Homo sapiens: one gene and its partner. The protein of the gene in region 2 interacts with the protein of the main gene of each other region in a pairwise test. Each region holds a gene or a part of one and is shown on either strand. Other genes may lie near its edges.

Evidence for each region.
Region 1: the proteins of RAP1B (region 2) and RAP1GAP interact in binary tests that used the Homo sapiens proteins (3 or more experiments, as listed by UniProt).

What each region holds. Positions count from the first base shown.
Region 1 is NC_000001.11:21,667,343-21,671,252, forward strand, and holds the start of RAP1GAP (rap1 GTPase-activating protein 1), read right to left. Parts: upstream 2,016-3,910; 5' UTR 1,912-2,015; intron 1,252-1,911; exon of another isoform or gene 1,169-1,251; intron 482-1,168; exon of another isoform or gene 256-481; intron 1-255. UniProt on the Homo sapiens protein: GTPase activator for the nuclear Ras-related regulatory protein RAP-1A (KREV-1), converting it to the putatively inactive GDP-bound state.
Region 2 is NC_000012.12:68,613,773-68,617,682, reverse strand, and holds part of RAP1B (ras-related protein Rap-1b isoform 1 precursor), read right to left. Parts: intron 1-3,910. UniProt on the Homo sapiens protein: GTP-binding protein that possesses intrinsic GTPase activity. Contributes to the polarizing activity of KRIT1 and CDH5 in the establishment and maintenance of correct endothelial cell polarity and vascular lumen.

The DNA of each region.
Region 1 (3,910 bases), on a different chromosome or scaffold from region 2:
TTCTTGTCTCCTAAGGGTGGAAGGTAGTTAGAGCCAGGAGAGGGGCCTCCTGAGACCCCTGCCAGGCAGGCACCTTGGGAAGAAGAGAAGAGGAGAGGGCTTTGCCCAAGCAAGCTGGGAAGGTCCCAGGGTGAAAGCACCATTATGGTGCTCCACGGGACAACCCTCCCTCCATGGGAAGGGGTGGCAAGGCAAGCCTAGGACTCTGGACCCTCTCCTCAACCTGACCCAGCTTCCAGCCACAGGCACCCTCACCTCCTGGCAGCAAAGGGGAGCAGGTCCACATGGACCACTCCACCACGGCGTTCACCCTTCCTCCTCTCCACCGCTGTGGAGATCTTCTCCCATCAAGAGTCAGAGTACCACGATTCTAGACCTTGCTGAAGGTGACTAGGTGACCTCAGGCAGTTCATTTAGCCTCTCCGAGCCTCAGTTTCCTCACCTGTGCAATGGAGGCTTCAGCGCCTGCCCTGAAATATTGCTGTGAAGGGGGAAATTGCTCGTGCCACCTGAGGATTAATCATTACCCTGGAACCCTTCCCAAGGCCATCAAGGAACACGCACCCCTTACCAGACCTTCCAGCTGCTGGGGGCTCTCAGAGTGAGGCTGAGGTCATGGAGAAGGGAATGGGGGGCCCCCATGGCCAGCTGGACCTGATCACTGCCTCCCCACTCAGCCACAGCCCTCAGGGCCCTGTGCCAGTCCAGAAGCCCATTCAGGGACACCTTTGGCCAATGTTCTGTTTCATCTGCGAGGCAACCTTCCCCAGTGCCCCAACCATAGCGTTTTCCCCCAAACACCCTCAGGAAGGAGGGACCACTACCTGTGCAGGGGGGGCCAGGAGCCTCCTGAGAGCCTCATATGGGGAGGAAGTGGTACCATCTCACCCCCATTGCCTTTCTCTCCTACTTCCACCTGGCCAGCTTCCCTCAGTGCCCCTCCTGCCTCAGTGCCCCTTCCCTCAGTGTCCTTCCTGCCTGCCGCCCCAGGGGCCTGACCTCTGACTTGGCAGGGAGGGGAATGGAGCCCGGGGACAGAGGCCAATGAGCCCTGAGAACAGTGGATGTTCTTCCTGACCCCACCACCGGGCCTGTGCTATGACCCCAACAAGGACTCCGAGGGCATGCACAGGCTGGGGTCTGTTATGGTAGGGAGGGGGCCGCTCACCTCCGGAGACTGTGTGTGTGTGCAGGTGTGCGTACACAAGGTTTCTTCCCCAAGCCCAGGCGCCCCGCAGCTGGCACCAAACCCTGCAGGGCACGGAAACCGCCCCGTGAATTCCCACCGAGTCCTCAGATCCTGCCGAGCCAGGGGAGGCGACGAGGGGGCGCCCAACTTCGTGACGCGTGTGCCCCGCTCTGCCGCGGGGGTCAGGGACAGGGGAATGCGTCCTGTCTCTGGGGATGCAAGGACATCACCGCCCTCCCCGCTCAGGGTCCTTGATCTGAGGCCCCCACTTCCCTCCTCTGAGGACAGGAGCGCCACCCTCTGGGGGGCGCTAGGGCTTGGGCCCCTCCCCAGGGATGGAGGAAACGCGCCCACTTCCCACAGTCCCTCCTCTAAACCCCAGGCGCCCCCACCTCGAGGTGGGCGGAAAACTGGACTCCCCACCCACCCAGGGGGGTGGGACCAAAGCCCCCTGGCCGCGGCCTGGACCAAGTCCAACAGGCTGGGGGTTCAGCCGGCTCAGTCCAGGCCTCCCCCCACTTCTCCAGCTGCTGTCAAGACCGGGCTGCGCGAGCCCAGCTGCGCCCACCCCTCGCCCCTGGAGACCCGGGTCCCCCACGCGTTCGCCCCCACCCTCCGTCCCCGCCCGCCCGCGCGGGGTCTTCGCTGCGAGCCGACGGGAGTCTGGACACCTCTGTCCCCTTCCCCTTTCCAGGGCCGCAGCCCTGGCGGGGCGCACTCACCCAAGGGCCTGGGCCGGGGGCGTCCTGGGCTCGGCACTCTGGTGCCCGCGGCCGCCGCTGCAGCTCTGCTCAGATGCGGCCGGCGCTCGCCGCCGCCGCAGTTCGGGGAGGGGGACGTCACATGACCGCGGAGCGCTCCTTCCCCGGCGCCGCTCCCCACTCACTGCGGAGCCCAAGCCGCGGGCGCGGGAGCGGCGGGGAGGCCCCCGCCCTGCCGCCCCGCCCCGCCGCAGGTCCTGGAGGAGGGTTCTCGGTGCCCCCATTTTACAGGTGGGGAAACTGAGGACCAGAGAGGGGCAGGGACTGGCTCAAGGTTACACAGCTAGACAGTGGCAGAACCTGGGCGACAGCCCAGCTGTCCAGGCAACAGCTCATGCTCCAAGGGGACTGGGACAACTTCTGGATCAAGTGGAGACGTCGGGATAGGTGGGGCCCACGGCCCCCATGGGCTCCGCTTGTCTGCAGGCGCGGGAGGAAGGCGCACAGGCTTCGCTGGGCGAGAAAGCTGCTGTGCCCTGGCTGACGCCCTCCTCACCCGGGCGCTCGGCGCGCTTCCTGGCAGAGGCCACGCGGTTGACCCTCGCCAGCCCATTCGCGGCTCTTGGACTTTGTCTCTGGACTGGGCAGCTCGCCCCCGCCCCAGCCTAACCCGGGCCCAGGGCGGGTGTGGGGAGGGGAGCCACAGGCTACGGAGAAGTGGAAGGGAGGCACCCGGAAGAGAGTGGGATCAGAACAAGAGTGAAAACCCAGGCAGGGAGGGGGCGGCAGAGATCACCTCGGCCTGACTTCCAAGGCCCAGGGAGAGTTAGAGACTTGCCCAAGGTCCACAGCAAGTGAGCGGCCTGCCCACTCGAGTCCCTTCTTTGATGGTCAACAGAGCCTGAGGCTCCTGTGCCCCACTCCCCACCAAGGGGGAGCCCTCACCCACACCTCTTTCTGTTCTCCACTGAGCTCCCTCCCCGGGGAACAGCCCACATGAAGCAAAGAAACACGCAGTGGGTCGGCAAGGCCAGAACTGGGGACAACGGGTGAGGGGTATGGTTGGTGGCTCCAAGGTCATGAACTCGTCACAGAACACTCGTGTTCCAGGGGGATCTCTGAAATCTCTGGATCTCACCCCAATGTTCTAAGAACTGGGAAAACAGGCTGCAAAAGGTACAAAGACAGACCTCTTTCTCAACCATTTCGAATTGGTGGGTCAAGCCGACAGGGCCCTCCAAGGTCAACAAGTCCAATAGGCCCACTTGACAGATAATATTTAGGGAGGGGAAAGTCCAAGACATGTACTCAATATATTTCTTGAGCATCTACTGTGTGCTTAAAACCACAACTGTTACTTCCAGCTCCCACTATTTTCCCGGCCACATGGGCTGCATTTCACAAAAGGAAAGATCCGAGGTCTTCAGCAACTCTTACATCAGCCTCTGGAGGATCTGAGACATGCAAGCCTCCGGGTTTTCAGTCCCATAGGGGCTGGGGACCAGAGCCATGTTTTCCGGTCAAGACTCTAATCCCCGTGGAGAAAAGGTGAATAAGGGGGAATAGCAGGAAATGCCCCACCCTCTTCCCACGCATCCACCCACCTGTGAAAGGGCAGAGGGGAAGGTAGATCAGGCACTTGTTCTTTTCAGTCCTCCCTCCAGCAAGCTTCCCTAGCTGTATATGGGAAAGAGACCCCAGCCCAGGGGGGTTTCTCAAACTTCTAAGAGTGCAGGAGCGGTCTGTAGACTCAGATTCAGATTCAGTGGGCCTGGAGCCTGAGCTCCTGCATTTATAATGAAGCTTCGTGGCTGCAGACATCCTGAGCAGCACTGGTAGTACAAGGCAAGTTGTCAGGGCAGGAGGAAGACTCCTGCGGTATCACATGCTCACTCATGGACCACCCAACCCGGGGGGCCCTTTGATCTCCTGCCTAGGAATACACCAGGACTATATAGTTGGCTCAAACACTGTAATAAAAAGGCAAGAAGTTGAATGAGGCTGGCCGAGGCGCTTCTGG
Region 2 (3,910 bases):
TTCTCACTGAGGAGGCAAGGAGGTTGGAAAGCTTCAGAAGGAAAGTACACATTTTGCTTTAAAAAAGTCATTGTAGTGATGGCATTACGGATGATACTCATTTTCTTCTTTATACTTTTCTATATTTTAAACATTGGTAAGAACGTCAAAAAGACATATTTGAACTCAGCCAATCTTATAAATACAAATCAGTACACTATCTCAAGTTTGTTAATTTCAAGAGCAGTAGGAGAAAACAACAGATAACATATGTTATATATCTCATCCTATCCCTCAATTCAAGATTCCAGAGGAATTCCTGCATTTTGCTATTGTATTGAGAAGCTTGTGGATAACTTAGAAGCATCAGCCACAAATATGTTGGCACAATGTAGTAATAGGATTCCACATTCTAACTGCAACTTTAAAACACAAGGTAACAAACAGCTGGATGCAACATACATACCTTTTGGCGCATAAAAACTAAGTAAAAATAGATTATATATATAGTCCTTATTTTATTGATACCCTTTCAGTTCTATTAACTGAGAACTTAGAAAGTCCCTGAATTTAGTATAAAGTAACTTTGAAAAATATATTCTAATGTGAGGATAAATTTTAGAATACACAGATAATTATAATTTCATTTTACCCAGCATTTTCCATTTCCTTTCCAGAAGCTTTCACCAAAAATTGCTACTAAATAGACAAAACATGTTTCCTTTCATCTTTTTCCCTTCCTACAAGGCAAAGAAAAAGGAAACAGGTAGAGGCAATCCACCACTTCGGCAATCAGTTCACTGTATATTTTTAAAATAAAGTTACTTAGTGAAATGCTGGGCCAGGCACAGTGGCTCATGCCTATAATCCCAGCACTTGGGAGGCCAAGATGGGCAGATCCCTTGAGCCCACGAGTTTGAGGTGAGCTTGGGCAACATGGCGAAACGTCTCTACAAAAAATACAAAACCTGGCCGGGCGCGGTGGCTCATGCCTGTAATCCCAGCACTTTGGGAGGCCAAGCCAGGTGGATCACCTGAGGTCAGGAATTCGAGACCAGCCTGACCAATATGGTGAAATCCCCTCTCTACTAAAAATACAAAACTTAGCTGGGTGCGGTGGTGTGCGCCTGTAGTACTAGCTAAGGCAGGAGATCTGCTTGAACCTGGAGGCGGAGGTTGCAGTGAGCTGAGATTGCACCACTGCACTCCAGCCTGGGGGACAGAGAGAGACTCCGTCTCAAAAAAAAAAAAAAAAAAAAAAAAAATTAGCCAGGCACAGTATTCCCAGCTACTCGGGAGGCTTAGACTGGAGGACTGCTTGACCCCTGGAGGCGGAGGCTGTGGTGAACTGAGATCGTGCCACTGCACTCCAGCCTGACTGACAGAGCGAGACTCTGTCTCAAAAAAAACAAAAAACAAAACAACAACAACAAAAAAACAAAGGCCGGGCACAGTGGCTCACGCCTGTAATCCCAGCACTTTGGGAGGCCGAGGCAGGTGGATCTCGAGGTCAGGAGATCCAGACCATCCTGGCTAACACAGTGAAACCCCGTCTCTACTAAAACACAAAAAATTAGCCAGGTGTGGTGGCGGGCGCCTGTAGTCTCAGCTACTCGGGAGGCTGAGGCAGGTGAATGGCGTGAACCCTGGAGGCGGAGCTTGCAGTGAGCGGAGACCGTGCCACTGCACTCCAGCCTGGGCGACAGAGTGGGACTCCATCTCAAAAAAAAAAAAAATCCAAATTATTTACTAGAGTTTTTAATGGATGCTCACTTCCTTTATTCAGTCTATCTGCACAACAGTTAAAAACATTCAATCCCCCAGTACCGGAAAAAAAATCACAAGTTATGAAACCAGAATTCAGCTAAAATTTAAAAGGTCTCACTGATATATGTATATGTGTGTGTGTATGTATGTGTATATATATACACATGTATAACTACAAAAACATAAAGTAAAAGTAATTACAAGTAAGCTTTAGGAAATGGTTTGATATAAAACTCAAACTCACAAGATTAAATAATTACTCTCTATGGTCAGAGAGACAGATTTGTAACTCAAAAGAACATTTCTAGTATGCAGGCACCTCATACACAATCTAAGTAATTTTTTTTTTTTTGACAGTCTCACTCTGTCGCCCAGGTTGGAGTGCAGTGGAGCGATCTTGGCTCACTGCAACCTCCGCCTCCCAGGTTCAAGCGATTCTCCTGCCTCAGTCTCCCAAGCAGCTCGGATTACAGGCACCTCCCACTACGCCCAGGTAATTTTTTGTATTTTGAATTGTATACTGATATCACAGAATATACTCCTCCTGTACAATAAAAATCAGATGGAAATTCTGTAACTCATGTTGTAAATATTTTTATTTTAGGGAATTTAAATTAAAAAAAACTGGTACATTTCCCCCACATTTTCATTTTTTCCTGTTTTAAGGTTCTTTGGAAAGTTTTAAAAATTTTGACCCTCTACTGATTCAAAGGAAAAAAAATCTTTCTAAATTACTGCTTAAATAATCAGTTGCTACTGTACCCTTGATTTGACCAACATTAGGAATAAATAGTCCAATGTTATGAAATACGGAATGTAAGTGATACTATTTTTTGTTGCTGGTGAATTTTAAAAAGTGATGTTTTTAAGGCAGCACAAAAGTTCCTGATAACTTTTCTTGTTTAAAATAGAAACTCTCCACGACCAAAGAGACTTGTTTTAGAATCCAGTGCTCAACTGGGTTCAAAGTACAACAGATTACATACAAATCAGTTTTTACTGCAAATGGATAAATTCATCTATTCTTTGTAGCTACTGCTTCCACTGTGCTTATGAGATTTACAAAGAACTTAAGACCTCAAATGGCAATTAGTACCTTTCAATACCATTGCAAAATAATCTATGAACACAGAAAAACACTAGCTTCCAGAGCCATGGTACAGTACTCCTGTTTACAGATGGCTGAACTAAAAATTTTGTCCAATGTTACAATGAATCACTGCATCAGCCAAAATGTCTTAACTTGTTCTAAAATTCAATTCAATTTGAAAAGGCTAACAAAAACTTCAGCCTAATCTCTTAGACCATGGAGTCCTCAATAATGACAGGAGGGGGAAGAAAACCCAGGGCATATTTTTAGTCACAACCTATGTCTCAGAAAGTTTAAGACAGACCAATCTTTACCTAACTTTTCTATAGAGTGAACACGTGACATCACTGCTATAAAACAGCAGTAAATAGCTAATTCATAAATGCTAAATTACTCCTAGTGCCAGTCAAATCTAGAAACTGCAGATCAATACCCAACCTCCTCTTTAGCAACACAAACATACAGAGAAACACAGTTATTTTACATCTTTAAGGAAATGAGGCAAATCAGTAAGATCTGTGTGATAGTCGATAATAAAACAGCCTATTTAAACAATACTTATGGGGAAAAAGTAAATGGACACCTTGTAAAATCGGTCAAATTCTCTGTATCAGATCCAATTTCAGATTAGTTTCACTACCTCAATAAATATTTATCGAGTACCTACAACAAAAGGCAAAAAAAACCTGAACGTGAGCTTTTCATCCAAATCTTGGACTGCATTTAAAATAACATGTCTAATCAGTTACCATGTTATCAATCTTTGCATAGACCTTCCACCAATCTTGAATTAGATAGGAAGATACAATTGAAAGGATCCTTACAAAAATGGATCTAGTTATTTTAATAATTAATTCTTTGCTATACCCTCCTTACATGGTAGCTCTTTATTATGGGAGGGGGTCACTTTACCTTTATACAGCTAAGAGAAAATATTGGAATTCTGAAAAGGATTGAGGATAAAACGAAAATTAATTTGTCAAGTAAAAGGGATTCCAAAGCCAATATGTAAATGTTTCTTTTTAAAGGATTACACTGTTCTCTTCAAATATCCTCTCTTTGAATGTTCATTAC